Linked DNA regions of Homo sapiens: all the other regions are linked to region 3. Evidence: fine-mapped expression QTL. A gene starts in region 3. Each other region holds a variant in brackets. All regions are shown on one strand. Distances are between the middles of the regions. Region 1 overlaps CERK (ceramide kinase). Region 2 overlaps GRAMD4 (GRAM domain containing 4). Region 3 holds the start of CERK (ceramide kinase). Region 4 overlaps CERK (ceramide kinase).

Evidence for each region. PIP is the estimated chance that this variant, and not a neighbour inherited with it, causes the effect.
Region 1: its variant is fine-mapped to the expression of CERK in whole blood (INTERVAL, PIP above 0.99).
Region 2: its variant is fine-mapped to the expression of CERK in whole blood (TOPMed, PIP 0.96).
Region 4: its variant is fine-mapped to the expression of CERK in whole blood (INTERVAL, PIP above 0.99).

What each region holds. Positions count from the first base shown.
Region 1 is chr22:46,690,893-46,698,595 of GRCh38, forward strand. CERK (ceramide kinase) reads right to left here. Exons shown (of 13, transcript NM_022766.6): 9 at 4,318-4,423; 10 at 2,535-2,611; 11 at 680-885. Among named protein-coding and RNA genes, the nearest start is that of CERK, 44 kb to the right of the region's middle. The variant C/A (reference allele first, on the strand shown) is at 2,321.
Region 2 is chr22:46,625,186-46,632,888 of GRCh38, forward strand. It overlaps GRAMD4 (GRAM domain containing 4), which reads left to right. Exons shown (of 19, transcript NM_015124.5): 2 at 1,566-1,776. The coding sequence starts at 1,615. Among named protein-coding and RNA genes, the nearest start is that of GRAMD4, 8.7 kb to the left of the region's middle. RefSeq lists enhancers at 2,097-2,882, 5,620-6,120. The variant G/A (reference allele first, on the strand shown) is at 3,461.
Region 3 is chr22:46,734,385-46,742,087 of GRCh38, forward strand. It overlaps CERK (ceramide kinase), which reads right to left and starts at 3,868. Exons shown (of 13, transcript NM_022766.6): 1 at 3,623-3,868. The coding sequence starts at 3,764. It overlaps LOC105373077 (a long non-coding RNA gene), which reads right to left and starts at 2,008. Exons shown (of 2, transcript XR_001755593.2): 1 at 1,919-2,008; 2 at 228-1,124. RefSeq lists enhancers at 1,680-2,253, 2,941-3,110, 4,349-5,007, 4,381-4,710 and a silencer at 3,261-4,220.
Region 4 is chr22:46,681,044-46,688,746 of GRCh38, forward strand. CERK (ceramide kinase) reads right to left here. Exons shown (of 13, transcript NM_022766.6): 13 at 3,367-6,163. The coding sequence ends at 6,091. It also overlaps a transcript of GRAMD4 not described here. Among named protein-coding and RNA genes, the nearest start is that of CERK, 53 kb to the right of the region's middle. RefSeq lists an enhancer at 2,487-2,988 and a silencer at 5,269-5,563. The variant A/G (reference allele first, on the strand shown) is at 4,776.

The DNA.
Region 1 (7,703 bases), 43 kb before region 3:
TATTATAAAGATTCATACCTCTTAGTTTCTGTGCTCAAATACATGTGTGTGTATATGTATGTATGTATGTGTGTGTATATGTATGTATGTGTGTATATGTATGTATGTGTATGTATATACACATATATGTATATATACACATACACACACATGTATACATACATACACACACACACACACACACACACACACATATATTTGAGATGGAGTCTCACTCTGTCACCCAGGCTGGAGTGCAGTTGCGTGATCTCAGCTCACTGTAGCCTCCACCTCCTGGGTTCAAGCGATTCTCATGCTTCAGCCTCCCGAGTAGCTGGGATTACAGGCGCACGCCACCACGCCTGGCTTTTTTGTATTTTTAGTAGAGATGAGGTTTCACCATGTTGCCCAGGCTGGTCTCAAACTCCTGACCTCGGGTGATCCGCCTGCCTCAGCCTCCCAAAGTGCTGGGATTACAGGCATGAGCCACCGCATCTGGCCTCAAAAATTTATCGTTTTAAATGATATTTTACAAGGAGTAGTTGTAACCAGGAGTTTAAAGTTTGTGAAATTAAAAAAAAAAAAGTTTGCCCTTCCTTCCCTTGAATTAAATAATGAATTCCTACAACACATAAACCAGGGACTGCTGGAACATAAATTACTCGCCAGTGGAGGCTCCATGCAAGAGCACCCCACTTACCTGGTCCTGCTGGTTGGTGTGCCTGATGAGAAATCTCAGAAAATTGAACCTGGAGCATTTCCGGATGAGGATGAGGTCAGAAGACCCGTCTCCCAAGTGGGCAGCCGGGGAGAGGCCCCTGGGGCTCCGGCGACAAGCACAGGACATGTTTGTGGCATTGATGGCCAGAAACTTCCCACAGACGACTTGCCACTCCTCCACGTCCTCTGAAGCACAAAGAACCACGGAGATGTCACAGTTACAATGGCGCCGGGCAGCGCCCTGCACCAGGACGGTGGGAGGCCATTCGGGCTCTCACCTGCTCATGCATTTAGCAGACACTTCATGCAATCGACTCTTCAGCTCAACACCAAAAACATCCACCACGGAACTGTCCGCTCCCCGCAGGAAGTGGTACCCAAAGGATCACCTCCCAGAAGGCAGGACTGTTGTCCCTCTCCTCACTTGGTGACTTTTGGACAATTTAGAACAAGGGTCAGCAAACCAAGGCTGTGTGTCAGATCCGGCCCGCCGCCCGTCTGTGTGTGGCCTGAGAGCTAAGAATGCTTTTCACGTTTTTAAATCCTTGAAAAAGGTCTGGCGCGGTGGCTCACGCCTGTAATCCCAGCACTTTGGGAGGCCGAGGCGGGCAGATCACCTGAGGTCAGGAGTTCGAGACCAGCCTGGCCAACATGGTGAAAACCATCTCTACTAAAAATACAAAAATTAGCCAGGCGTGGCGGTGCATGCCTGTAATCCCAGCTGCTGGGGAAGCTGAGGCAGGAGAACTGCTTGAACCCGGAAGGCAGAGGTTGCAGTGAGCTGAGATTGCGCCATTGCACTCCAGACTGGGCAACAAGAGTAAAACTCTGTCTTAAAAAAAAAAAAAAAAAAAAAAAAAATTAGCCAGGTATGGCGGCAGGCGCCTGTAATCCCAGCTACTCAGGAGGCTAAGGAAGGAGAATCGCTTGAACCCAGAAGGTGGAGGTTGCAGTGAGCCGAGATCGCGCCACTGCAATCCAGCCTGGGTGATGGAACAAGACTCTGTCCCAATAAATAAATAAATATTATTGACTGGGCATGGTGGCTCAGACCTGTGGTCCCAGCACTTTAGGAGGCTGAGGCAGTCAGATCACCTGAGGTCAGGAGTTTGAGACCAGCCTGGCCAACATGGTGAAACCCCATCTTTACTAAAAATACAAAGATTAGCTGGGCATGGTGGCACATGCCTGTAGTCCCAGCTACTAGGGAGGCTGAGGGAGGAGAATCGCTTGAACTCGGGAGGCGGAGGTTGCAGTGAGCTGATATTGTGCCCCTGCACTCTAGCCTGGGCGACAAGAGTGAAACTCCATCCAAAAAAAAAAAAAAAAAAAAGAAGAGAAAGAGAAAAAAATCAAAATAATAATATTTTGTGACATGTGGAAATTCTATGAAACTTAAATTTCAGTGTCCATAAATAAAGTTTCATCGGCAGATGGCCATACCCACTCACTGTACACTGCCTAGGCTGCCTCTGCTGGACAGAGACTGTGTGGTTGCCAGGGCCTGAGGTGGTCACCAAGCAAGCCCTCAATGGGACATCTGCTGCCCCCACATTCTAGAGCACCTGGGACAGGAGTCCAGACTCAGCACCACAACAGCGTTTCAGAAAGGGTAACGGGG[C/A]CTTTCACAAAACCCACTGCTCCACACAGCCACACACGGCAAGTAACAGTGACCTGACGCTGCCTGGGGCTAAGAAGAAATGGATGCCTGGTGCCAGACAGGAAAAAGGAAAAGCACAGGTGGGCAGGGAGAAGAGGCAGTGCCCTGAGAGAGGACAGAAACCCGCACTCCAGCACACACAGTGACAACACTGAGCCTGTGTTTTAGGAATTACCCGCAGCTTCCAAACCATACAGTGCTTTCTTCTGCTCCTCCTCCAGCTGCTGCTTGCTTTGCCTGCAAACAAAGCATCTGAAAGACAAGAATATCATCACCTTTTAAATATGGAGCTGCAGGTGCAGTGCGTATGCTTGGCACATATAGATGTATTTACATTCTTTTCACATACGAAAAAATTCCATTTCAAAGGCTTAACAAAATATTTTTTGGCATATTAATTAGAGGTTTCAGAATGAGACCTACTTTTACAATGACACATTCAACATGTCCTTCTCTAAAAGGTTTGGACATGAGGAGAAGCACAGCATGAGGACGCTGAGGTGCCACCTGGAGACGGTTTCTGCCTGGCCCTCCAGCTAACATAGCCTGGCTGGGAGAAATGACTGAGGCACTGGTTCCCCCAGCGGACTCCTGGGGTGAGGACTCATTTACTTTCAGAAAACAAATCATACAGGGTTTATCTGTTACAGTCAATAACAAGCAAATAACTCAGAACCATCAGCTTAGAACTTAGTCATTCGTCTAGCACGTCCTTCTGATCTTGGGGGCTGCCGGATTCACGCTGTCAAACAGGACACTGTTTGCACTGATGGAAATCGCTCATCAGCAGCCGAGTTCTTTAATGCACTGACGCAAACAGCATCTGCCTCTACATATTCTGATTTTATGGTCTCCAATTCTTCACTTAAAAAAGGAAAGGAGCTAGAAGGAGGTTCTGAAGTCTGCATGACTTAAAAGGAAAGGACGTGAGTGTCCTTCACAAAGGCGCAGCTGTCTCCACAGCCCCGTGTCCTCAGCCCCAGGCAGAGCAGAGACAGGATGACCATTCAGGCGCCCTCCATGGTCACTAGGGAGGTCATGCGGCCTGGGACAACTATGTTTAGATTTATTTAAGGTTCTATTTACACTGGTCGCATATTACTGAATACACTGTGTGGGGGTGGGGGCGGAGATATGCCAGGTGAAAGGAGTCCCTGCTTGTTCAGTGGCGTAGCCACCATTGCAGAGCCTGCAGTGGCCAAACTGGGGGACCAAATGTAAGGGGAGAGCGCAGCGTTTCCAGCTGTGTTGTCTGCACTCAGCCTCCCCTCCCCGGTGGGGCGCCTCTTTCCCTTTGCATCCCCTCTCCCTGGGCAGCTGCCCTGGCTCTGCCCCCCAACCCCTGGCACCAGCCCTTGTTGCCAGCCCGAGCCTTCTTGCTGAGGGTCCCTGCCTTCCTGTGGGGTTGAAGGCGTGGCTGGCCTGGGCTCTGCTAACCTTAGAGTGGGCTCCTGCCTTGGAGCATGGGGCTAACATGGGTGAGGGTCTCAGCCAGGGGTGTGGACAGGAGGGTGGCTGCTGAGAGTGCACACTTCAGCCAGCTCTACCAACGGTCCTGCCACCAGTGCCCTGCACACGCACAGTCACTGATAAGGTGTCTGCCATCCTTTCCTGCCTGCATTTCTCCTCCATCAGGCCCCTGCAGGGGGTAAAGGGAACCCCAGCAGGGAAAGACCCTGTGCTCAGCCCCCACTCCAACAGTGGGTGTGGGACCCTCCCCCAGAGTCCTCATCCCTGGCACAGCAGCAGCTGCCTGCGCAGGCCATGGGGACAGAGATGGGGACAGCAAGCCCCATGCACGCCTAGGCCATCATGGGCATCATAGGCATCGTGTGTCTGGGCACGCTACATCCGGCACCTTCCACCACATTTGGAAAATACTTCTGCATTCACCTTCCTAACCGTCCTGCTTCATTTCCCGTCATTTGCAAGAGAAACACACAAAGCAATGCACTTACCCTGCCCGGCAGGGCTTCCTATCCCTTGGAGATCCCACCGTGTGTTGTGCAGGGAGGAAGGACACTGTCCCTTCATAGCAGTGGTGGGAGAGGAAGGTCTTTAAACCTGGGAACAGAGTGCAGTGAAGAAAAAACATCCACAAGGGTCATTGCTTGGTTAGGATGCTGTGCTGGGCAGCTTCAGAAATGTCGCTGAGCGCGCATCTGCCTAAACCGTCTGCAGGAGGGAGAGGCCGGGCCTGCTTCAGGCCATGTCACCATTGAAGGCAGTGGCAGGGTCTCTGCCCTCCCTCAGGACAACAGCACGTCTAGTCATAGTGCTGGTGCCTTCTGACACCCAGTGATGCTGGGACAGCCAGGGCTATGGCCACTCTTGACGCTGGCAAAGTGGGGCCTTTGCCATTAGCCACCCCTCATAGCCTCGATGATGTGGCCTGTGGGCTCCAGTGGCTCAGGGTCATCCCCTCCACCTCTTCATGAGGGTCAGTGATGCCCCCACCTGCCTCAGGGCTTGGCCCCCACTGGGGTCAGCCACAGCCCCTGTGACGTCCTGAACAGCTCAGGACAGAGGCCAGGGCCGCTGCCACCCAAAGTCTGGGGCCACCCTCCAGGCAAACGTGTGCGCTGTCCACGGGGCTGCCAGCAGCCTGGCACCCGGGCTGTCTGGGAAACACCACCCAGCAGGACAGCAGGGACTGGGCAGGAGGCAGGAGAGGGGCCCCAGGGTGTCGTGGGCCACACCAGGAGCCAGGCCGTGTCCTGTGAGTCTCAGGGCGACTTCACTCCTCCGTGTCTGATGCTGGGGCTGGTGCTGCCCTGTATGACATCTGGTGTGGCAGTGACGGCCTGCAGGGCCGTCACACACAACCTTACCCCCGACACACAGAGGCCTCACATCCTCATCCGCAGATGGCAAGCCCACAGCCAAGTGTGCACCGCCCAGGGGTGGGGGAAGCTGCCGGCAAGAGCAGTCTGGCTCCTAGGACATCTGTGTGCCTGAAAGTCAGCTCCCGACTGTCCCTAGGACAGCCCCGTCTGTGGGTCTTGCACCTGGCATGGGCCAGGTGCCTGGAATGCACTCAGCGGGCGGGCCCTTCCAGGTGGCTGCAGCTCCGCCTCCCTGCAGAGTGGCTCTGGCCTCTCTCCCTGCTCCTCCCATGGGGGTCCCACAAGGACGTCGTGTCCACGGCCCTGGGAGGAGGCCGACCCACTGGTCAGCAACCTTCCAAGCCGGCTCCTCTCTCAAGTGCAGGGGGCAGGGGGGCAGCTGCCTCATCACCCAGACGCAGCCTCCAGGGTGGCGCCTCACCGACATCTGATGTCCCGGTTTCTGTCTGCCCCTAGATGGGCCCCAGATGTCCTACCGGCACCTAAAACTCCACGTGTCTCAACAGAGTGTGTCATTTCCACACGCTCATTCTCCTTCCATGCCCTCTGTGCTGCTCCAGAACAACCGGGTGCTTTCTGCCTCACAGCCACAGAACCCAAACCCGCTTTCCTGAGAGCATCTCAGGCCCTGTGGCCAGGATGGGGATCCAGAGACCCGGAAGGCGTCTCCTGCCTCGGGGCTCTCATCCTGGTGGGAGGGACAGAGCTGCAGCCACTGCCTGTGGTGATGGGCTGAGGGCAAAGGGGGGGGCCAGGCATGCAGGGGGGCTGCCCACCACCCCACCCCAGCAGGCAGGGACAGGGAGGGGGCATCCCAGGGGCATTCTAGGCAGAGCCACACTGGGCTCAACAAAGGGCAGTCGGGAGAATGGCACAACCCAAACCGCTTCCTAAAATTCTCGCGGCTTCTCTAATTTTCTCGGTATTCCCTTTCTTAATAAGCCTTAGATAAATACCTCACTTTGCCATTTCTTAGGTTTTAATTTTCAAGCCACACTAGTTTTTAATTTCATTAAATCTTTTCAAGCTTCGTAAAGTTTGCCAAATCACTATTTCTTTCTCTCATAAGGGTTAAGATTTTAGTATCAGGAATTACTCGATTTAATTTGATACAGATTTATCTGAAAGCGAACTGTAAAGAGGCGGGAAAGTCGACCGGGCAGCGAGAATGGCACACCTCATGGTCTACATATTTTCTTCTTTCTTTCTTTTCTTTTTTTTTTGAGACAGGGTCTGGCTGTCGCTCCAGCTGCAGTGCAGTGGCCTGATCTCTGCTCACTGCAGCCTCCACCTTCTGTGCTCAAGGGCTCCTCCTGCCTCAGCATCCCGAGTAACTGGGGTGCCCGGCTAATTTTGTTTTTAATTTCTGTGGAGATGGGGTCTCCCTATGTCGCCCAGGCTGAAATTCTACTTTTCTTTTTTTTTGAGACAGAGGTCTCGCTCTGTTGCCCAGGCTGAAGTGCAGTGGCACGATCTCAGCTCACTGCAGCCTCTGCCTCCCGGGTTCAAGCAATTCTCCTGCCTCAGCCCCCCGAGGAGCTGTGACTATAGGTGTGCACCACCATGCCTGACTTATTTTGTATTTTTAGTAGAGACAGGGTTTCACCATGTTGGCGAGGCTGGTCTTGAACTCCTGACCTCAGGTGATCCACCTGCCTTGACCTCCCAAAGTGCTGGGATTACAGGCGTGAGCCACTGCCCCTGGCCAATTCTATGTATTTTTAAAGTTCTCCTTTTCCAGCGTTTAAAAGCTGGTGACGTCGCACCCACTGCCTGATGTGTGCAGACTGCAACTCTTGTGTCTGAACTGGCACCAGCCTTCATTTCTGGTTCATTCTAAACTCTGTGGTCGGGTAACAGGTCACCGCCGCCTGGCCCGAGGCCCCAGCAGCAGCCCCGGGAGCCTGGAGGACCTGCATGTTCCGAAGCCCACCCAGACCTGCCGTGTTGGATGCTCTGGGGGGTCCCCGCAGCCTGGGTTCTACCAAGCCCTCCAGAGGATGCAGGTGCCCACCACAGTCTGAGGACCACTGGGCTCAAGAAAGAGTGAGGCAGGATGCGGGCAACCTCTTTGTGCCTGTTTTCTCCGCTATAAAGTGGGGCAGGAGCACCTGCTGGGGTGAGAAGAGCACTGTGGAGAATGAAAGCTTTTGGGCTTCAGGGAGTGCGGCGTGGCATTCGCTCCCACTCCTCCTCCTCTGTGCCCACTGCGGCCGAGCCGCAGGAAGGCAGGATCTTGCCTGTTTTGTTCATGGACACGTCCCTGCCTCAAAAACCAGGCCCGGCATAGAGCAGGGGCTCAACAAATACGTGCTGAGTGTATCTCACTTGTATGGCTAGCTACGGTGTAACCCCAACAAAACCACGCAACCTTGTTGAATGAAGTAAAGGATACCTGTGCCTGAAGTTACAGAAGAGCTTCCACACAGATATCCCAGGCTGAATTTCTGCACAAAGTTCTTGCCACTTTGACTAATAAGCTCAGAGTGATTATAAAA
Region 2 (7,703 bases), 110 kb before region 3:
CATCAGGAATACTCAAGTGCCCATCCCAGGAGAGCCTCCCCTCCCCTCACCATGCTGGGAACCTCCGCGCCTCTGTGGCTCAGAGTGGGTTCTAGTGCGTTCTGTGTCTTCGGTCCTCACTGTTAATGAGTCTTCTTGCCACGAACTGTGATGCTGAGGAGAGCGGAGGAGGCTTTGGGGGCGGGGCAGGCATGTAGGAGCTGGAGCTGACCTTGCTCTCAGTGCTTCCTTGCCATGCTGCCCGCCCCAAGCAGGAAGTTTGGGAAATACCCCCGCCAGGGATCACTCCCCGCCCCATCTCCTTGCTCCTGGCCCAGTTGCCCTGTCTTCTTGAATTCCTGGATACCTTTGCCTTACTGGCATCTTTCCATTTTCAGAGGCAAAAATGTCAGCTCAGAAAGCTGGTCAGTGGCAGGACAGGCTTTCAGCCCAGGTGTGTACAGAGCAGTCCTCCCACGGGGACCCAGTTGTCTTGGACAAGTTGGGGACGGGGTTTTGGGAGAGGCATCCAGGCCATGGAGCTGCGTGATGGGGCTGGGGCTGGGTGGCCTCTCCCTGCCTGGCTGGCCCCTCCTGTGGGCCACTGATCCTGGCCTCCAGGCTTTTGGGGGTGCCTTGGTGTTGCTGGCCAGGTCGGGCAGCGATGTGGGGAGCAGTACCCCACGGCACATCCGCCCTTTGGCACGTGGTGTGTGTGAATTACGCGTGTCCTGATGCAGCACACAGTGACTCGCACCTCAGTGTGACCAGGTTTCTGTGTTGATTGGAGGAGGAGGCAGGCATGGGGGCTGGGACAGGAGGCCCAGCTGGCCATGGGTGCCTGACCCCGCTGTCTCTGGGAGGGCTTCTGGGAGGTGGTGCGATCTGAATGTGTCTCAGAGTATGAGCCTGGTCGCATGGCGAGTAGGAACACGCTTTAGGCAGAGGGAGCAGTGTGGGCGGAGTCCTGGGAGCCGGGGCCAGGTGGAGCAGGTGGGACACAAGGCCAGGTCCCCTAGGTCCAGGAGAGAATCAACCGAGGCATCCCTAGCACACGCATCTGCTGGTTTCCAGGCGTGGCTGCCGTCCTGGTGGTGTATGTGGCCGTCGTGTTGACCACGTTCTTGACGGTTTGTTAGGCAACCTTTTGGCATGGCTGGCCCTCCTTCCCAATGCCAGAGCAGCATTCTTCCCTTGCGCCTGCGCGCCGCCTCGCCGAGCCAGGCTGAGAACCCTGGCTTCCTTCTGCCTGCTGGGAGCCGGGGGCCTCGCTTGGTGGGAGGCAAGGACGCAGCTCAGCACTGACCAGGCTGGCCTGGGTGGGGTGGCCAAGGGCCCCACCTGATGGGTGCAGGGCGGGGGTCTCTGGGTCGGGGTTTTCTTTGGAAAGCTGGACCGGCCGTGCCCTGCGTGTGGGAGCTGGCTCGTGGGGCTTGGAGGTGTGTGTGGGAGGGACGGTGGCAGGGCGGGGTCTCTGGGTCGGGGTTTTCTTTGGAAAGCTGGACCGGCTGTGCCCTGTGTGTGGGAGCTGGCTCGTGGGGCTTGGAGGTGGCGAGCGGGAGAGTGACCACGCCCCTCTCTTGCAGGGAACCCGAGCGTCATGTTAGGGTGAAGCAGAGGACCTCAGTGCTGAACATGCTAAGGAGGTTGGACAAAATCAGGTTCAGAGGTCACAAGAGAGATGACTTCCTCGATCTAGCGGAGTCTCCAAATGCCTCGGACACCGAATGCAGCGACGAAATCCCCCTGAAGGTACCGCGGACCTCGCCCCGGGACAGCGAGGAGCTGAGGGACCCTGTGAGTACCTGTCCTCGTCCCCCGGTGTGGGCTGGGGTGTCGTCCCCGTCCTCTGTGGCCGGGCCAAGCGTGGACTCAGGCAGATTCGTGTCCTGCCCATGCTGGTCAGAGATGGACTGGGCCTGACTCTCTGTCTCACCTGCTCCCGACCCCTGCAGACCTTGTGGGGCCGGGGTGCTGCCACGCCGAGCCTTCTGTGTTCGCAGGTCTGATTAGCGGCTGGATTGGTTTTCCTCACTGGCTTTTCTGGGTGGGTGGCAGACTTCTCACGCACATGTGACGCGGAAGCCTCGGCCTGGCCCTGGGAGCGTTGACATGCGGATGGAGCAGGGCGGGCGTTGTCTGGAAGCCGCTGGTGCCTGGCTTGTCTTCTATTCAAGCCAAGGTGCACGTTTCCAGCCCCCAAAGCTGGCTAAGCCCAGGCTGGGCCCTCATCAGCCACGCGGAATCAGGGCTGGGCTTGTGGCCAGCTGGGGGGACAGCAAATACCCACGGAGCACCTCAGCTAGGCCCTGGGCCCTGGGTGGGAGCCAGGTGGGGAGCCAGGCGGGAGCCAGGCAGGAGCAGGCCCTGCCTTGCAGAAACTTGCATTTGGTGGGGGGTGGGGCAGGGCCCGAAGCATGGTGGGTTGGGCTCCCTGCGGCCCCTCCTCTGGCCCAGCATGGCCTCTAGCTCCTCCCCGCATGCACACACCAAATTTGGTGTCTGGCTGGTTTCCTCCTCCAGCCCCTGAGCCAGGTCTTCTTTCCAGGTGTGGCCTGGGAGCGCCGGCCTTCCCTGGCTCCTTGCGTTGCTAATGCTTTATAACAGGACAGTGACTGTGCGTTGCTTTCAGCAGGAATTAATAATTTACTGCTGCTGCTGCTCTCTCGACACTGCCCGATCAGGCAGGTGGGGCCGCTTGGCTTCCTGGGGCATCACTACAGACCACAGAGTGCCCGGCCTGCCGGGATCGGCCATCCCCAGGCAAAGGTTGTGGTTGGTCCTGGGGGTGGACCGGGACCCCGGTAGGGTGTCTGCCCTTGTGCAGGTTATGTGGCAGAACGGCAGGGGCCTGCCTTCGCCGGAGAGCTGTGTCTCATCCGCCTCTGGCTGGGGCTGGCACAGAGGGCATGGGTCACGATTCTCCGATGGTGGTCTGTGTGCTGAGCATGTGGTGGGTGTCTCGGGAACAAAAATCTCCCTCCCGACACATACATGGTTCAACAGGGAGGGGTGACGGGGATTCCACGCAAAGGCCAGAGCGGGGCTGTTTCCCCAGCTCCCTCTCCGCCATCCGTCTGTCCTGCTCCAGGTGTTGTCTCGGTAGGGACCCTCCCGCCTGAGGGACCCTGTGAGTACCTGTCCTTGTCCCCTGGTGTGGGCTGGGGTTTCGTCCCTGTCCTCTGTGGCCGGGCCAAGCATGGACTCAGGCAGGTTCGTGTCCTGCCCATGCTGGTCAGAGACGGACTGAGTGTGTGCGTGGTGTCTGAGGGGCGGGTGGACTGAGTGTGTGCGTTGGTGTCTGAGGGGCGGGTGGACTGAGTGCGTTGGTGTCTGAGGGGCGGGTGGACTGAGTGTGTGCGTGGTGTCTGAGGGGCAGGTGGACTGAGTGTGTGCGTGGTGTCTGAGGGGCAGGTGGACTGAGTGTGTGCGTGGTGTCTGAGGGGCGGGTGGACTGAGTGTGTGCGTTGGTGTCTGAGGG[G/A]CAGGTGGAGGGCTGCAGTGAGGGGGCCAGGGCCAGGGTTGCAGGTATTGGTCTGGTTGGAGCAGCAGGAGGTAGGGCTGTGGGATCATGGGAGTCTTCACCTGGGGCAGAACATCTGGATTTGGGGGGCATCAGGGATCCCCTTCGGGGGAGGGTCAGTGTCAGAGCTGGCCGCTCCAGGGTGATGTCTGGGGAGTAGCTTGGAGAATGTGGCTCCTGGGGGTGGCAGAGGGTATGGCGCTAGCGGTGTTGCTGGCGTCACAGGAGAGGCAGGCCGTGGTCTGGACCAGCTCTGGTGGGCAGGTGGTGGTCCACGAGGTACAAGGGGGCTTGAGGGGGCATGTTGAGTTGAGAGGGAGCCCACCGAGTAGGGGCAAATGCTGCAGAGGCCAGGGCAAGGTCAGCCTGTGGACTGGGGCCCCCCTTCCTCGAGGCTGTGAGGGGCTGCGGGGGGAAACCACCTCAGGGACTCGGACGTCTGGAAACCCAGGAGATTCCTAGTGTGGGTGAGCAGGGCCCCGCTTGGGGCATCGTGCTGAATGCAGGTCAGGCACTGACTGCAGAGACCAGGCTGAGTTCCTTAGCTGTGTAACCTGGACCTGAGCCTCAGTATCCTCAGCTTTTAAGGGGGACGGCAGTCTCGTCCACCCCCAGGCCTGCTTTAAGGATCAAATGAGATAATAAGTGAAACGTACGTGGCTGGCGTCTTGCTTATGGTTAGCTTGGAGGGAGTTGTAATTATTAATGACCGTGAAATACTGATTCGCTAAACCCTCCTCCTGGTTCCAGGGCTCCTTTGCGAAGCCTCGTTCCTGTAGCACGTTGACACTGCTCCGGCCCAGGCTCACGAGGCCCCCGGGGTGGGGGGCTGTGCAGCGTTGCCCTGCTCCTTCCGAGGTCCCCTCTCATCACCCTTCTTTACACGGGCAGCCTCCCAGAAACATCCTGAGACCTGGGCTCAGGCACAGAGGCCTTGGGGGTTGGTTTTATAACAGCTTAATCGAGATATTCCCACCGGGTATACAGTATACAGTTCACCCACTAAAAGTGTGCGACTCAGGGGTTTCTATTAATAGCATATTTACAATGCTGTGCTACCATTACTACAGTTTTAAAAGGTTTTTATCACCTGAAAGAGACCCCGTTCCTTTCACAGTCACTCCCATTTCCCTTGGCCACCGGCCCCACCAGCTGCCAGCCTGCTTTCTGTCGATGGATTTGCCCATATGGGGCATCTCATATAACATGAGGCCTCGTGTGTCTGTCCTTTGCTCGCATAAGGGACGCGAGGTTCATCCATGCTGCGGTGTGCATTGGTGCCGCCTGCCTTTTTATGGCTGAACCTGTTTCATCATATGGCCAGGCCACATTTTCTTTTTCTTATTCTTTTTTTTTTTGAGACAGAGTCTCACTCTGTCACCCAGGCTGGAGTGCAGTGGTGTGATCTCGGCTCACTGCAACCTCCACCTCCCAGGTTCAAGCGATTCTCGTGCCTCAGCCTCCTAAGTAGCTGGGATTACAGGCACACACCACCACGCCCGGCTAATATTTTGTATTTTTATTAGAGACGGGGTTTCGCCGTGTTGCCCAGGCTGTTCTCGAACTCCTGAGCTCAGGCAATCCACCCGCCTCAGCCTCCCAGAGTGCTGGGATTACAGACGTGAGCCACCGCGCCCGACCTGTTGTCTTTATTCATTGATCTGTTGTGGGCGCTTGGGCAGTTCCATTCTTGGACTGTGATGAATGAGGCTGAATGCCTGCGATTGAGTGTTTGTGTGCATGTGCTTCCACATGGTCTCGCTGGGCCATGCAGAGGCCCGAGATTGCCCTTTTCCAGGATCTACCGCATTCTCATGTGCAGCCGCGCCATGCTCCGTGCCCACCGGTAGGGTCTGAGGGTTTCCCTGGAGGGGCAGGTTCAGACCGGAGCCCACCTTGCAGCCTGGGGTGTTCTGACCGCCCCTCTCAGTGCTCCAGGAGCTCTTCCGTGGCGGACCCCAAGCAGCCTCACTCCTGGCAGCGGCTCAGGATCTCACCCTGGGATGTTCGTCACTTCAGCTAATCTGTCCCCACTGAGGGATCGCAGGTGCTTGTGGCTCTTAGCGTCCATCACTCCTGGCAGCCTGGTGCCCATGTGGGCTGCGGCACTTTTGGTGGAAGTGCTGGACCGAGTGTGCCTGTGTGGTGGTCCTGGCAGCTGTGCGGTGTGCCCTCCATAGCCCCCCGAGGGCCGTGTGCCCTCACCCCGGCCTCCGCAGTGTGCCCTCCATAGCTCCCTCGAGGGCCGTGTGCCCTCACCCCGGCCTCTGCAGTGTGCCCTCCATAGCTCCCTCGAGGGCCATGTGCCCCCACCCCGGCCTCCACGCTGTTCTCAGGCTTCTCTCTCCACCGCCCCGAGGGGCAAGACGGCAGTGCCGAGTGGCTGTAGGTTGCACGGCTTTTATTGTGCAGGAAGTTGGTCATCTTTGCACACATGTAGGCTTCATTCTTTTTATTTGTTGTGGTAAAATACACAGAGCATTGAATGTACCATTTTCATTTTCACTGTCAGTGTGCAGTTCAGGGGCACGGAGCACATGCCCTCTGTTGTGCCACCATCGCCACCTCCACCTCCACCTCCACCTCCAGAACCTTTCGTCATCCCAGACTGAGGCCCAGCACGTGTCACACGCCAGCTCCCTGGTGGGAATTCCTCCCTGCCACACCCCGGCAGCCTGCATTCCGCCTCCTGTCTCTGAATGTGACTCCTGGGGACCGGGGATGGGTAGAACCTCACAGCCTGTGTCCTTTCGTCTCCTGGGGACCGGGGATGGGTAGAACCTCACGGCCTGTGTCCTTTCGTCTCCTGGGGACCGGGGATGGGTAGAACCTCACGGCCTGTGTCCTTTCGTCTCCTGGGGACCGGGGATGGGTAGAACCTCACGGCCTGTGTCCTTTCGTCTCCTGGGGACCGGGGATGGGTAGAACCTCACGGCCTGTGTCCTTTCGTCTCCTGGGGACCGGGGATGGGTAGAACCTCACGGCCTGTGTCCTTTCGTCTCCTGGGGACCGGGGATGGGTAGAACCTCACGGCCTGTGTCCTTTCGTCTCCTGGGGACCGGGGATGGGTAGAACCTCACGGCCTGTGTCCTTTCGTCTCCTGGGGACCGGGGATGGGTAGAACCTCACGGCCTGTGTCCTTTCGTCTCCTGGGGACCGGGGATGGGTAGAACCTCACGGCCTGTGTCCTTTCGTCTCCTGGGGACCGGGGATGGGTAGAACCTCACGGCCTGTGTCCTTTCGTCTCCTGGGGACCGGGGATGGGTAGAACCTCACGGCCTGTGTCCTTTCGTCTCCTGGGGACCGGGGATGGGTAGACCCTTACGGCGTGTGTCTTTTCATCTCTGGCCGCTGTCACCAAGCACCATGTCCTCCAGGTGTGCTCCGCTTCATTCCTGCTTCCTTTCGTTGTGGGCTGTTTGTGTCCTGGGACAAAGTGGCTGAGAGTAGAACCCAGACCTGCTTGGGAGGGGAAGGTTGGAGGGGCCCTGGGTGGGCTTGAGGGGCCCACGAGGCTGGGCTGGGAAGGGGAGGTAAAGGTGGAAGAGACAGGTAACTGTGTGGCTGGTGCTGGCTGGAAGGAGAGGTGGCAAGAAGGAGGTGGGCATGCTTAGGGCTGGGGCAGCGTCTGGGGTGACCCCCGACCAGGAGGCAGGAGATGGGAGACGTCCCCAGAAGACCCACGCCCCATCTTGAGAGGGCTGCAGATTTCAGTTGAGGCAAAAGTTGGAGAAAATAGTTCTAGAAAAGCTGAAGAACTGAGAAATGGCCAGGCCTACCACTCTAGTTTTATAGTGACAGCGCCACAGCCTTGGTGTCCTGCACCCTTGGAGTTCTGAGTCCAGGCCTCTGACTCCAGCTCAGGGTGGCTCCTCTGTAGGTCTGAGAAGGGGTCAGCTGGAGGGACCCACAGGGCTTGCAGAAGGATTCAGACCCCAGCATTTCAGGGCAGCACCCCAGGGCCTTGTGTCCCAATAGGAGACCCCTTGTTCATTGGTGAGTCCTGCAGAGCCAGCCCTCACCACCCTGGTATCCAGGTGGCTCTCATCTGGGCTGTGGAATCCCAGGACTGGGTGGAGACCGTGGGGCCCAGCCCTCGTGGGCCTGGAGCAGCCATTGGAGACAGGGTTGGCACATGTGGATGGAGCCGGGTCACCCGCACGACGCTGCCTGTGCTTGCTGGGGAGGGTGCTGGGCGTGGCGG
Region 3 (7,703 bases):
CAGCCGGGCACAAAGACGTGCACATGGCATGATTCCATTTACATGAGATAAAGCAGCCGGGCACAAAGACGTGCACATGGCATGATTCCATTTACATGAAACTCTATTAGCATCGTGCCTGTCCCTGGTGAGAAAACAGCCCAGGGCCCAGGAGAAGGTGCTGGGCTGCTGCGATCCGGGTGATGTTTACACAGGTGCACACAATTATCAAAATTTAACCAACTATGTGCCTTAAAATGTCTGAGTTTTATTGCATGCAATTTAGACCTTGATAAAATCGATTTTTAAAAATCATGTCTTAGGAGAGGAATTAGTAGCGTGGAAAACACTCTGCAGTATGTTTTCTCAGCTTTTCTTTCATGCATATTTACATATACACAAATACCAAATATTAATCACGTCTAAGTCGAAGAGTGACTTTTTGTGTATGCTTTTCTGTGTTTTCTCGATATTATTAAATCAACATGACTTACTTTTGTAAGCAGGAAAAACATTTTTTTAAAGTATCTGTGGCATGCCTATGTTTTGCCAGGCACTTTGCAGGGTGTGCTGAGGACACGCTTTATAAACACAGTACTGACCTGCCCAACGAGTTCACCACCAGCCTGGGACATCCCAAGTGGGGTTGGTGGAAGGAAGGGGAGGATCCTCCCACAAAGGTAGAGCCTGGGCAGTAGTCCCCTCACCCCCCAACACACACACACACACACACACACTCTTCCCATTCCCAACTCTAAAGGAATAAATGCAGGGTTTGTCTAAGTGTGTTTTGCGACAGTCAGGGGAAATAACCCAGATATCAACTCAGTGTTTCCAGTTCAACGAGCATGACCCACTTCAAGTTCCTGTTTTCGTCCTGCCCTACTTCCCACCAGGCTGGCGGCCCAGGGCACTTGCTGTCGCGGCTTCCTCAGGTGCAGACCTCACCCAGGCCCAGGAAGCTGCAGCGATCCAAATTGCTAGTCCTTGTCTGTGCTCTTGTACAGTCAGTCACTGTCCCAGCATGATGACCCACTGACGAAAGTGCACGTGCCTGGGTTCAAAGCCAGCTCCCTCTGTACATCACTGCCTCTGGGCCCAGTCAATTCCCACTCCTACTGTCCACATCTGAAATAGGGGTGATGCTACGGAGAAAACAAAGGAGTCGGAATAACTAAGCGGCCACCCCAGCAGGGCACACACAGTGGCCTTGGCTTTGTCTTTAGCCCATTGGTCACCTGGAGCTCCAGGGCTGCTCCTGCCTCATCTCACAGGTCCTCCTAGGGCCAGTTTTTGCACAATTCTCCACCTCTCATCATTCCTCAACCTAATCAATCCCAGTGTGCCCAGATACACCTGGGGGAATGGGGAGGGCTGGGCAATGCCACCTTGCTGACCAAATTAAATGTCCTGTGAGCTGGTTCACATTCTTCTGCCCTACTATGGCCCTACTGACCTCAAGCATAGAAGAATCGAACCTGGGCCTGATTCCTTTTGGGGACTGTAAAGCTATGAGAAAAAAACTAGAGACAGTGTGGCTGTATTCCTGAACTCATTCACAACTTAGCGTTTCCCAACTTGTTGATGTTTTCCCATTGCATGGGAGAGCACTCCTGGGTGGAGAGGGCAGGCTGCTTCCTGGAGGAAGCCCACCAGCCAGGGCCACCAGCCAGGGCCCCACCATCCATGGCCCCACAAACCAGGGCCCTCCCTCTCCAAGAGGGACCAAGCTCCTGGCAGGCCAGTCAGGCAGCTCAGGATGAACCCGCACAAAAGCACCTTGGCTTAGCAAGAGTGAAGCAATTAGCATGCCAAGAGGCAAACCCCAGCAGGCTGGACAAAAGCAGACGCCACACCACACCAAGCCCTGACCTGGGGGACCAGAAACCATAATGGGAGCTGGCTGGGGACGCCAAGGCAGAAAGCAGTGATGACTGACCTCCCACACAGATGCCCTGTAAGGGTCTGGCGTCTCTGCGGCGGCTGGAGCCTGAGGGAAGCCTTACAGCCCAGTGGCTACAAGCACAGCAGCTAATTGGGCCAGTCACTTCCAGCCCCTGCAGATCGGCCCCTGCATCCCTAGGACGGGAGCAGCTGCCTCTCAGGAACCCATCCGGTTTGAAGCCCAGTGGCCCGCACTTAGGAAGTGCTTGGGGGAGGCAGTCATCTTCCTGAAGCCTAGGGATTTACAACAAAGTACAAACCCTTCGGGCCCAGGTCAGGCACCTGTTCTCCTTGTGTGTGGGCCCTGGTGGGTGATATTTGGGGTGTGACATTTCTACCAAAGGGGACATGAGAAATACCTTAGGAAAGTCAAGTCTCAGATGCCCAGCCACAGATAGGTGACCCCAGGGCTGGAAACCAAGTGTTGGTCATGGGTCTGAGACCACCCCTCGACCTTGGCCCCACCTAACGTTCAACTCTGTCCCCACCAGAACCCAACCCACAGATCCTCACCACTCAGCACCAGAAAGCGCCCAGAAGAACTCCTGACCTCGACTGCCCACAGGGTCTAAAGGTGTCATCCCAGGCTCCGAATATCCACCAGAGAATCTTGGCCTCCGCCACACCCACCCCATTCCAGCTCCGCACATCCAGCATGAATCCTGGCCTCTGCCACACCCACCCCAATAATTAAAAAGAAAAAAGGCTGGGTGCGGTTGCTCACACCTGTAATCCCAGCACTTTGAGAGGCTGAGGTGGGCAGATCACCTGAGGTCAGGAATTCAAGACCAGCCTGGCCAACATGGTGAAACCCTGTCTCTACTAAAATACAAAAATTAGCCGGGCGTAGTAGCGGGCTCCTGTAATCCCAGCTACTCCGAGGCTGAGGCAGGGAGAATTGCTTGAACCCAGGAGGCGGAGGTGCAGTGAGCCAAGATCGTGGCATTGAACTCCAGCCTGGGCAACAGAGCAACACTCCGACTCAAAAAAAAAAAAAAACAAAAAACAAACAAAAAACAACAAAAAACAAAAACAAACCCTCTGTCCTCCTGCAGGGCTCTCTCCAGGGTGGGCTATGCGTCCTCCATGTTTACCAAAGTCACTCTTCTCCTCATCCGGAGGGCCTCTGCGGGGCAAGTAGCCAACCCGTGGCACGGAAACCAATTCCCCCATCCCGAGCAGGGAGCACACCCCACAGAAAGTCAGGGGCCCCTTCTTTAACTTCTTAACAGGAAGTCCTCACCCTGCAAGGGCGCCTCTCAGGTTTCGGATCCCTGCTAAAGAAAAGCATCTGTTCTTGGAGTAAACTGCAATGCGCGCGGTGGGGAGCGCCTGGCACCCCCCCTCGGGATCCATCCACAGTCCGTCTTGTCCAGAGGTGCCCTGCGGACAGACCGCACCGGGGGCCACGACCCCGCGCCCCGGGTCCCACCTCCCCGCGGGGATGGGGCGCCGGCCTCCCCTCCACTGCGCGGCGCTTTGTCCTCGGGTTCCCGGAGCAGACGGCGGCGCACAGCCCGGCCCCTGGCCCCGGCCTCCCTCCCGCCTGCCCCGACCCCTCCCTGGCGCCTGCGCTCCCAGGGCCCCCGGCCTTACCACAGCCGCTCGCTCCCTGCACCCGGTCCCCCCAGCCGGGTCCCCCAAGCCGCCCCCGCTCCCTGGCCAGGTCCGGCCGAACCCGGGCGGCGGCGACACTCACCCGCGCCGGGGGCGCCGGCTCCGGGCCCCGGGCTCCGCCACCAGCGCAGCAGAGCCCGCGCGGGCTCCAGGCTCACGGCGCAGCGCTGCTGCTTCACCCACAGCACGGATTGCAGCGGCTCCGCCGCCCCCGTCGCCCCCATCTCCGCCGCCGGGCTCGTCCGCCAGGCTGGGGGCGCGCGGACGCCGAGGGGCGCCGGACCGTTAGCGGCCCCTGCAGTGGCCCGGGCGGCGGGCGGCGGGCGGCGGGAGGCGGCGCTGCGTCACCCCGTACGCGGGCGGCGGGGACCGCGGAGGGGACGGGCGGGGCGGGGGCGAGGAGGAGGCGTGGGTAGAGGAGGGGCCGGGAGCCAGGGAGAGACGGGGGGACCCGAGAAGGGGAGAAGAGGGAGGAGGAAGGGGCCGGGATGGGGCTGGCCGAGGCCAGGGCGCTGGGGCCGGGAGGCGGCTGCCTTTCTCTCCTCTCTTCTCCGGCGGGTGCCGGGTGCTGAATCTGGCGCTCCCGCGGCCGGCCGGGACTCAGTGGCGCCTTCCGCGCGGGCCTCGGTTCAGGCGGGGTCCGGGCGGCGTGGAAACGCAGTCCTGGCGATCGGGCGCGGCGGGGGGCGGGCCTGGATGGGGGCGCCACGGGCGACGTGACCTTGGGCGGCGGGTGCCCTCTACGATCCTGGCGTCCTGTCGGCCTGGGAGGGGGCCTGCAGCTGGGCCCCGACAGGCAGGTAAGGCTTTCAGGAGGCGGAGGTCTTTTTAGGGGGCGGGGGCGCTGGCCCTTTGAACTGCTCTGGGGCCTGAAGCCACAGAGCAGACAGCTGAGCAGCCGCCCCCGAGCTGGCCCTAGGAACCGGAGCCTGGGCCCCAGACTTGGAGAGACACGGCCCCTGTGGCCCCAATTCACCGCCTCCCCAGGAAGGCCTCCTTGACCCCACAGCTGAAGGAATCACCAGCCTGCAGGGACTCCAGCCCTGCCTTCAGAGCACGCCGTGCGCCTTCATGCAAGCTCCAGTCTCTGCGTCCGCAGTGCTTAACACAGCCCCATAGGAAGCAGCCACAACCTGGTTCGGAGGGCACATCCCTCCCTGATTTATCAGTGAAGACTGTGCTCACAGAGGTTAAGTCACTTGCCCAAGAGCACAGGGCTCCAGTGTGGCAGAGCCTAGGCTCACACTGACACTGCCTGGATGTGACACTGAGGTCTGAGGCCTGCCCCTCCCCTCGGCTCCCCTACCCAGCCCTGCTGCTGCAGGCAGAGGTGAGGTGGGCTAGGTCCACGTGGCCTTGCTGCTGTGCCTGGCACCAGGTGGCAGCATATACAGGTCTTACCCTGCCAGCTCCTTGTGACTGTCTTGTCTATAGGGCGGGAACCAGCCATGAATCATTCCTCCCTGGGAGCCCAGCCCCTGTTCAGGCCATGCAGTGAAGGCCCCAGGACAGTCCTGCAGCCACCGTGGGCCCAGTCAGAGTCCTAGCAGGCAGTACCTGATCGTGGCACACAGTGGGGTGTGCAGCAGCGAGGCCTGCCCAGCCTCCTCCCTCCCTCAGCTGCCGCTCTGAGGCCTGGGAAATGTGGATCTGAAACTTACTTGGAAAGAAAAGCTCATGCCAGTGGCAGGAGGGTGCCGCTGCATGCGAAGAGGGTTGGCAGGCAAGGGTGGCATGGGCAGGGGCCCGAGAGCACCAGCGTCCCTACTGGGGACCCCTTCCCTGGGCCTCCCTGTGCTTAGGCTCCCCGTGCCCCTCCCGGCGTATTCACGTTGCTGTCCCCCGGCTGCACGCCTTGGCTTAAAATCCTGCAGCCAGAGGTGGGGGCCCAGAGACGACTCAGAAGTGCTTAGGCCCCGAAGGAGCTCCGTTGGGGGAGACAGCAACATCAGTTACAAAACACACAGGAGATTCAATGAGGCTGTTAGGGTGGGCCCTCATCCAGCGCGTCCTTACAAGAAGAGGAAATGTTGACCGGGCTCTGTGGCTCACACCTGTAATCCCAGCACTTTGGGAGGCTGAAGCGGGTGGATCACCTGAAGTCAGGCATTGGAGACCATCCTGGTCAACATGGTGAAACCCTGTCTCTACTAAAAATACAAAAATTAGCTGGGTGCAGTGGTGCGCTCCTGAATCCCAGCTACTCCGGAAGCTGAGGCAGGAGAATTGCTTGAACCCAGGTGAGCTGAGATTGCGCCATTGCACTCCAGCCTGGGTGACGAGAGCGAAACTCCATCTCAAAAAAAAAAGAAGAGGAAACGTGAACACACACAGACCCCCGAGGCGTGTGTACACAGGGGTGGCCATGGGAAGGGGCAACAAAAGAGAGTGACCTCCAGGAGGCCAACCCTGTGGGCTTGAACCTTGACCTCAGACTTCCAGCCTCTGCCAACTGTTCATGGGAGACGACAGATTGCTGTTGTTGAAGCCATCCAGTCCGTGATATTTTGTTATGGCAGCCTGAGCAGACCCAGGGGACCTGTAGTCCTAGGATGGGCTGGGGAGGGGCCTGGCCACTGCAGGGCCCCATGCTCATGCTCAGGGAGACAGGGTGATGTCACGAAGCCCAGGTTTCCAGAAGATGCACATCCTGCAGTTGAGTTGCATGGGAGAGGGGTTGGGTGGGGGTCAGGCCCTGTGTGGGGCCAGGGCCATGACTCTGGGCACAGCACTGGAGGGATGGGAGGAAAGAGCAGCTCCACCCCAGAGCAGCCGTCAGGTCCCTGCTGTGTGTCAGACCCAGGGGGCCCTTCAGGAGCTGGCTGCGAAGGACACAGGAGCTTTGAAAATGTAGACGAGGCCAGCCCTGGCTGCCTGAGGACCTCCCGGTACCTCACCCACCTCTTCCCTGGCAGGCACCTTTCCCACCTTAGACCCTGCCCAAAATGCCCTTCCCACACGTCTGCCTGGGAGGCCCCCACTCACCTTCTCCTTCAAACCACATCTTGTTTCTTCTGCCACAGAGTCCCCTGATAGCTCACTGCATGGCACTTCCACCCCCGGCTGCCACAGGGCCTCACTTCTCCTTGTGGCACTTCAGAACAACTGATGCCCCAACCTGTTGCTAGCCTGCTGTGTACATGGCTGGTCAGCTCTGCACAGGGCCCTGAGCTGCCAGGTAGGCCAGAGAGCATGGGCTCAGCCCCAGCAGCCTGGAGTTCTGGTCCTAATTAGTCAGGCCCTGACCTGCCACCTGACCCTGTCTTGTGTCCAGTCTGCAGGCTTGGGTTGCTGCCTGGTGGCCTGATGGCCCTGGAGCCTGCTAAGCCAGACATCCTGCCCAGCGGCGGCCAGCACCCGTTCCCCTGGGCGGCCAGGTTGTCCCACCCATGGGCCACCTGGCTCCTGAGGTTCTGTCTAAGCTGGTCCAACCCCATACCCACGAGTGTCCCACCCACTGGGTCATCCATACCACGGGCCCCGGCCCCTCCTGTCCACGGAGCCCTGGCCACCAGCAGGAGCCTGGCACCAGCAGCCCCGTCTAACATGGTCCCCGCCATGGCCTCTGATCTATTCTTCCCTTCTCTTCCTGGGCCCCTGGCCTTGTTTGCTGTGCCAGTCCTTCCAGCTTATCTCCCGAGACTCCCTGTCTCGTGAAGTCAGCACCACCATCTGACATCAGAAACTAGAATGCTGGGTTGGGTGGGAGGATCCTGGCACCAGCTGTACATGGGCTGCCAGGAATGCCATCCTCTGCCCTCCACCTTCAAGGAGAAGCCTCCCATGCTCCTCTTTAAGGCTGACTGCCTTAAAAAGGAGAATCCGAGGCTTCTCCTCAAGGGTCTGGAAGAAATGTCTTGGGCCCCAAGAGGCCCAGATATTTGGAGAGTAAGCTGATCATTACAAAACACACATCCCTACATTCGCCACATGATCCAGACAATCGCCCCTGGAAATGGGTATTATTTACCCCTTTTTACAGACGTGAAAACTAAGACCCACAAAACTAACCTGGCCTGCTCCGGTTGTACAGAAAGGTAATTAGATGGGTTGCAGGGGCACTCCAGGCTCCCCTGTCCCAGGCTTTGGGGTCTCCCTGCCGTGGGAGAGTCTGAAATGTGGGAACTGTAGATGACACAAGCTCCAGGCTTCAGCCTCTGTGG
Region 4 (7,703 bases), 53 kb before region 3:
CTGTGATAGCCACCGACCCCTTCCACCCACCCCTCTGTCCTCTGCAACAGGTCCTCCCCCAGCTTGCTCCTAACTTGGAACAAGGCTCAGACCTACCTAACCCGTTGGCAGCCCACACTGACCCCTCCACACAGACAGGGGGCAGTGTGGGCCCATGGCAGGTGTCACTGGAGCCGGGCCATGGAGGAGGCGGAGGGGCCTCCCAGGGGCTTCTGAGTGCTCAAAAAGGCCAACCTTGTGGGAGACCACCCACCCTCGGCCCACAGGCTCTATGCCTAAACCAACAACTTGCCTGTTTTGCGTATATTTCACCATTTAGTGTCAATAAAGGTGCCTACATATACCTCTATCACCATTTACGGGTGATTGTGATAACTATTTCAGTGCAGCTGGTTTCCTTGGCAATCGTGCATGTTTTAATGCATGCATTTTACCTTACTCAGCGGCATCTCTCGGCTGTACCTGGCTACCAGAGGGGCTGTGCAACAAGGAAAGGTCACAAACCTGTGGGGCAGGCCTGGTGCCCTCTAGGACTTTTGTTCTGGGAGTGATGGGGCACTGCAGAGCTTCCAGCAGAAGCTGGCACTCTGGCTGCAAATCAGAAGAGGGGTCACCCAGGGTGGGGGTGCGTCAGGGAGAGTCCAGAGGGGAATGAAATTGTTAATGATTTTATTCTTGAACCAGGGGTTCTCTTCATAGGTACTTGCTATATGTTTTTAAATATTTACTGGATGAATGTAACGGATGAATGAGTAAATAAATCAGAGAGGGCCTCACATGGACCAAAGTGAGTGACGCTGGGAACCCAGGGTTGTGGTCCATTCTGCTCGTCCTGCAGAACTCCAGGAGGCAGCATTCTATGGGCTTATGAGCTCCAGCAGTGTTTGGAGGACAGGGTTGGCCAGAGACTACAGGAGCCACAGACTAAGGGCACAGCCAAGGAAGGACCCCAAGACCCCGTCCTGTGTTGGTGTGAGCTGGGAAAGCCGCCCAGGGAAAGGGCTGTGCAGCCACCCAGTGCTGCTGAAATCAGAAATCTGCCCTCAAAACCCCTGGAACCAGGAAGCCCAGCTCTGCCCTCCTCCTGGGGCCCTCGGGTCCACGTCAGCTGGAAGGGAGACACCTGGGATCACAGAGGGGCAGCTGGGGTGGGGCTGGAGCCAAGAGGCAGTGATGGGCAGCTGACCACTCCCTCAGACAGGAGCTGGCCCATGCCCCTGCCATCCTCTCTGCTCAACTCTCTACCACATGTCACAGCTGGCATCGCAAGCTAGGGGAAATAGCTGGACCATGCACGATTGTAAAGAAGACATTCAGCTGTTACTATCTGTAAATGATATGATGACAGAAAACCCCGAAATTCACAGGTAAATCATCATCATAGGAGTGTGGAAGCTGCTGGTACAAAATGAGTCAGGGGAGGCCGTGAAGAAGCTCTCGAAGACCTGCCTGTAGCAGAACTCACCCCAGAACCCTCGGGACTGCGACGAGGGCGCCCGCCCAGTGACGGCCACTCCTGCGGTGAACAGTACTGCCTCCTGCCAGGAGCTGCTGTGACCTGTGAACTTCGTTCTAGAGCAGCTTACATGGACTTCTTTGCCTTTTAAAGTGTTGCCTTTATCGCGAACACCCCCCAAAATGCCTTCCAGTGTAGCACGCATATCCTGACTGCAATCCCCTTGCTGTTCCTGAATAAACTCTTTCTTAGGAGAACACTCTGATGTCACTTTAGGTTGACGGGAGGCAAGGTTTCTGGATATAACCCAACACATAAAAAACAATTGTGGCGGGCAGATCACGAGGCCAGGAGTTTGAGACCAGCCTGGACAACATGGGGAAACCCCATCTCTACTAAAGATACAAAAAACTAGCTGGGCATGGTGGCATGCACCTATAATGCTAGCTACTTGGGAGGCTGAGGCAGGAGAATCACTTGAACCCCGGAGGCAGAGGTTGCAGTGAGCCGAGATCACACCATTGTACTCCAGCCTGGGCAACAGGGCGAGACTCCGTCTCATAACAAACAAAAAATTGCATTTCTATGCAAAACAAAACAAATTTTAAGATAGCCTCAAAGGCCAAGTGTGGTGGCTCACGCCTGTAATCCCAGCGCTTTGGGAGGCCAAGATGGGAGGTTCACTTGAGGCCAGGAGTTTGAGACCAGGCTGGGCAACATGGTGAGACCCTATCTTTACAAAACATTAAAAAGCCTCAAAATAAGAACTTTTGGCTGGGCACAGTAGCTTACTCCTGTAATCCCAGCAGTTTGGAAGGCTGAGGCAGGAGGATTGCTTGAGCCCGGGAGTTCGAGACCAGCCTGGGTAACAGAGTGAGACCCCTGTCTCTACAAAAAATTTTAACAAAATAGCCAGGCATGGTGTTGCACGCCTGTAGTCCCAGTTACTCAGGAGGCTGAGGTGGGATTGCTTCAGTCTGAGAGATTGAAGTTACAGTGAGCCGTGATCACGCCACTGTACCCCAGCCTGAGCAACTGAATAAGACCTTGTTTAAAACAAGGTTAAAAACAAACAAAAGTCAAGTTTTAGGAATAAATCTAAAAATTTAAAGACTTTCATGGAAAAAATTATAAAATAATTAAAAGACATGAATGAGGATCTTTCATGGACCAGAAAAGTCAGTTTCACAATGCAAATGTCCTTTCGAAGTTCCTCAAATACAAATGCAAATGCCCTCTCAAACATGTGGAGTGGGCCGGGCGCAGTGGCTCACGCCTGTAATCCCAGCACTTTGGGAGGTCGAGGCTGGTGGATCACGAGGCCAGGAGCTCGAGACCATCCTGGCTAACACAGTGAAACCCCGTCTCTACTAAATATACAAAAAATTAGCTGGGCGTGGTGGCGGGCACCTGTAGTACCAGCTACTCCGGAGGCTGAGGCAGGAGAATGGCGTGAACCCAGGAGGCGAGCTTGCAGTGAGCCAAGATTGTAGTGAGCCGAGATTGCGCCACTGCACTCCAGCCTGGGTGACAGAGCGAAACTCCGTCTCAAAATAAATAAATAAATAAAAATAGACATGTGGAGTGAAAGAAGCAAGTTACAGAAAACAACACGTTTCCTTTGGATAAGGAGCAAAACCTGCAAAACTAAACTCGCTGTTGCAGATACAGCCATGGACAGAGGCAGGAAGGGATGCGCTTGGCGTGACCTCGTAGCGCCCTCCCAGGGGGAGCGGGGGGACTCCAGAGCAGGGCACAGAAGGCTTCGGGGCGGCGTTCAGTTGCCTGGCATAGGTGGTGGTGACACCTTGCTTCATTTTATTCTTGTTCTTTAAATTGTGTGTGTTTTCATGAAAAATATTCTGCTTTGAAAATAACAGGTATGTGTAAAGGAAAGAAAGCAAGCCAAGTCTGCCCAAGTAACTTTATTCGTGTCTTCTCAAACATTTCAGATCAAATAATGCCATTTTCTAATCTTGAAACCAGCAAGATTAGAAAGAGAATGAGGCCATCCTTTCACTCAGACTTTCCCAGTTACTCAAGATTGTATTCAGGAACGAAGTCAAACTCGGCCTCACTTCTTAATTAGAATAAACTAGAATCAGGTCCATTGCATAACTGCTAATTGTTTTGCACCAGGGAGCCACAAAGGAAGCTAAAACTAGCCTTTCTAAGTTATCCTAAGTTTTTACTATCTAACCAGCACTTCTGATTTTTTTTCCCTTAAAACTCTAAAGTACAGGTGTTGTATGTCTGCCGCATCTGAAAGGCTGCCCCGGAAATCAGAGCCTATCTAGCGGGAATGTCTGGGCAGTCACCCCCATCCTGCGCGCAGATAGCAAAGGGCTGCTGGCAGGTGTCAGACACACGGTACCGCAACAGCAGTCCCGAGGTCTGAGATTCTGAATGTCAGCAGGTGGCTGGAGAGTATCACCAGAGCCACTCAGGAACCAGCCATGCGGAATGGCTGGGTTTCTTATTGAACATGAAATGCTTCCTCTTTGGCCTGGACTGTTTTGCTAAAATTGTTAGTGGGTTTTGGGGCAGGCCAGTGTATGGGAAACTTTTTTTTTTGTTGGGGGGGGCGATGGAGTCTCCCTCTGTTTGCCCAGGCTGGAGTGCAGTGGCGCAATCTTGGCTCACCGCAACCTCCACCTCTTTCTTGGGTTCAAGCGATTCTCCTGCCTCAGCATCCCTAGTAGCTGAGATTACAGGCGTGCGCCAACAAGACTGGCTAAGTTGTGTATTTTTAGTAGAGACGAGGTTTCACCATGTTGGGCAGGCTGATCTCAAACTCCTGACCTTAGGTGATCCACCCGCCTCGGCCTCCCAAAGTGCTGGGATTACAGGCGTGAGCCACCGCGCCCAGCCGGGAAACATTTACCAGGGACAATAAAGGCTTAGAAGAACCTTTTGGGGAAACTTTGTGAGGAGCACAATTCCAGAGGGCCCACAGCAGCCACAGCCTCCTGGCGTGACACCAGGCACACTGCCGGCTGCACAGGTTGCTGGGCACAGGCAGGCACAGCCAGTCTGGAAGAGCAGCCCGTCTTAAATCTTTGGTTTCTTTCCAACCAGGAGCAAACATTGGTAGAAAGAGCCAGGGCATATTTACTCTTTACACCCAGAATTTTCATTCATTATTGAACCATTTGGCTTGCACAGTGCTCTCTGATAATGTGGTCCATAAAAACCACCATTAAAGCTGCCCTTTCACCTGATCTGGGTGGGGCTAAACGAGGAAACGAGAAGTTTCCTGTATGCTTCAAAATATAAATCAATGCCAGGAAATTCTGAAAATGGATGCTGCCTGTTAAAC[A/G]TGAAATCACTAAGGGAGCTTCTGCAAAACCCACCCGGCAGCATGAGGAACGGTGTCTACAGCGTGCTCCAAACGGCCACGGCCCCGCTCCTTACAGATCAAAGTTTAAGCCGCATATTCTCATATTTCAAACAAAACTACGTTACAGACATCATCTACGTGGGCACGGATACACACTAAACAAGGACGTAGTACACAATTGAGGGGTGCCCCGGGGAGCGCGGCAGGAATGCCTTCCGGGAAGAATCCTCTGGTCGCCGGAGCCCTCGCGCTGCAGAGGAAACCAGCGATCCATCGTGGCTTCGAGGCAAAAGACAGACATCCGAGACGCAGTTTACACTACTCTGGCTTAAAAGGACAAGATGTTCAATAAATATAGAGAACTCAGTGTGAAGAAAAGACAAGGACAAATCTGGACCACGTGTACAGACTTCAGGCCCTGCCTCAGAGGAGTCCTGCGGGAGTCCAGGACCGGCCCCTCCTCCACGGATGGCCAGCTTCCTCCTGACTGCCCCCAAGCCCGGCTGTGTTAAGCACTTCGCGTCGATATAAAGCATTGGTATTTGACATTTTAACAGTAACAAACTTGCCAGTGCTTTACACACTGCCAGCTTCCAGAGCTTATCATCCGTGCTCCCAGAACAGACGCCAAGGTCATGCTCCCAGCCGGATTGTCGTAGCCTCGCCGCCGTGATGAGGCAGGTGTGGAGGCCCCAGCAGCCTTCCCGGCGCTGGCGTGGAGGCCCCTCCCGCGGATCACCTGAAGCAGGGCCACGTTGCATTGCAGTTGCACAGTATTGTAAGGATCAAGCAGCGATGTCCTAACCGTAAACGAAGAGGAAGGTGAAATGAAGGCAAAGAGAATCAACCACTTCCCAAAACTTGGCCACAAACCGTTACAGAATAAGTCCTGCAAAGTGGATCAAAGTGACCCACTGCTACCTCAGGCCCAGATGGTGTGACCTGCGTGGAAATCATATAATGTCCCTAACATTATTGCAATAGAGCCACTAACGGGCCATTTTCTAAACTACACTGTTGACATCGTTAAAACCTAAGAGGCCAGTGCCCCCAAGTGAGCAGCTGCATCCGCTGAGAGTAAGCGGCGTGGGCTGCAACCCGCAGATGCGTACAGAACTGAAAATGCCAAATATGTACACAAAATTGTTGACAAAAGGGTTTTCTTCTAAAATCAAGATTTAACTATCAAAAATAAATTTCTACATTTAAATGTATATATCAACATAATTGGTCTGTAATAATTATCTTAAATAGTTTTCACACTTTCCCAGTTTGTGAGCAGGACGCCGGCTTCTCAGCTGTGTGAGTCTGGCTTCGGATTCTCTTCAATTCCTCGTGCAAAGAGTCGAACCAGCTGGCAGTGGACTCTGCAGAGACAAGCGGCCACGTGTAAACCCCACGTGTCCCTCACTCAAAGCTGGCCTGAGCCCCACTCCTGGACAGGGGCTGCAGTAAACCCCACGTGTCCCTCACTCAAAGCTGGCCCTGAGCACCGCTCTTGGACAGGGGCTGAAGTGGGGGTCCATCCCCCATGGAACGGTCAGACGTCACCGTGGGCTGTAGGAGTCCAGCCCACAATGACGGGCCCTGGGCGTGGAATAATTCACTTAGACTCCCGGGATGCCGAGTTTGTAAAGGGGTTGCCAATGGCCAGGTGGGAAATCTGGGCATCGGTAGACCTGACTCGAACTCCAGCACCCCCATGGAAAGCAGAGCGTCCGCTCCAGTGTCTGCCCACTCCACCCACCCACCCACCTCCATTTTCTCAGCAGTACTGAGCGCGCAAGGCCTGCGAGGAGTCTGTGCGGGGCGACTCAATGCGTGTAAGAGATGTGTGAGGAATGCTCAGATGAGAAGGACAGGTGGCCCAACGCCAGCAAGAGCCTTCGGGCTTGAGGAACAAGTTGGGGGTCCCTGGAGGTCCCCTGCCCAGGGGCTCGGTGGCCACAGTGAGTCCGTGGGTGAGTGCCATCTTCCCACACAGGACAGCTCTATTTATCTCATTTATTAATGATATCACAGCCTCCTCAGACGTATTTCAGTAACCTAAACCCCTTCATTAAGTGACAGGCTGGGGCAGGGCACAGTGACTCACGCCTATAATCCCAGCACTTTGGGAGGTCCAGGCGGGCGGATCACCTGAGGTCAGGAGTTTGAGACCAGCCTGGCCAACATGGTGAAACCCCGTCTCTACTAAAAATATAAAAATTAGCCAGGTGTGGTGGCGGGCGCCTGCTACTTGGGAGGCTGAGGCAGGAGAATTGCTTGAACCTGGGAGGCAGAGGTTGCAGTGAGCCGAGACCTCGCCATTGCACTCCAGCCTGGGCAACAAGAGCAAAACTCTGTCTCAAAAAATAAAAAAATAGAAATAAATAAGTGACAGGCTGTTTCCATGGAGCTGAGCTCACACACACACAAATTATATTTTTAAAAGCGACGTGCTGCTCAAGGCATAGCCATATTTATCAAGATAGACAGGACGTATTTCAAGAATGCCTGTCCTGATTTTCAAATTATTCTATTTCTTTAATAAATACATACACCAATATTAAAAATAATCCCACTTCCCAAACTTGTCAAATGAGTTGACAGAGGAAAGTCCCTGTGCACGGCTGCCTGGGGTGGCCGGTGTTCCTGGGACCTTTCGACAGCCTCTTGCCATCACCACCGCCCTGACAGAAAGAAAGGGGGCGCGTGGCCCTGGGCCTGGGGAGGGGCAGAGACCTCCTCCCTTAGGCTTGTTCGGATGCGAATGGGAGAAGCTTTCTTAGAGCCGCAGCTGGCTGGCTGAGGAGTCACTGAAAGTGGGGCGCTGTCCACAGAGATGCGTGCATCCTCTTACATGCTGTGACTTAAGGCACCCAAGGGCCATCTGACACCCAGCTTTCGTTGCAGACAGGCGTGGGC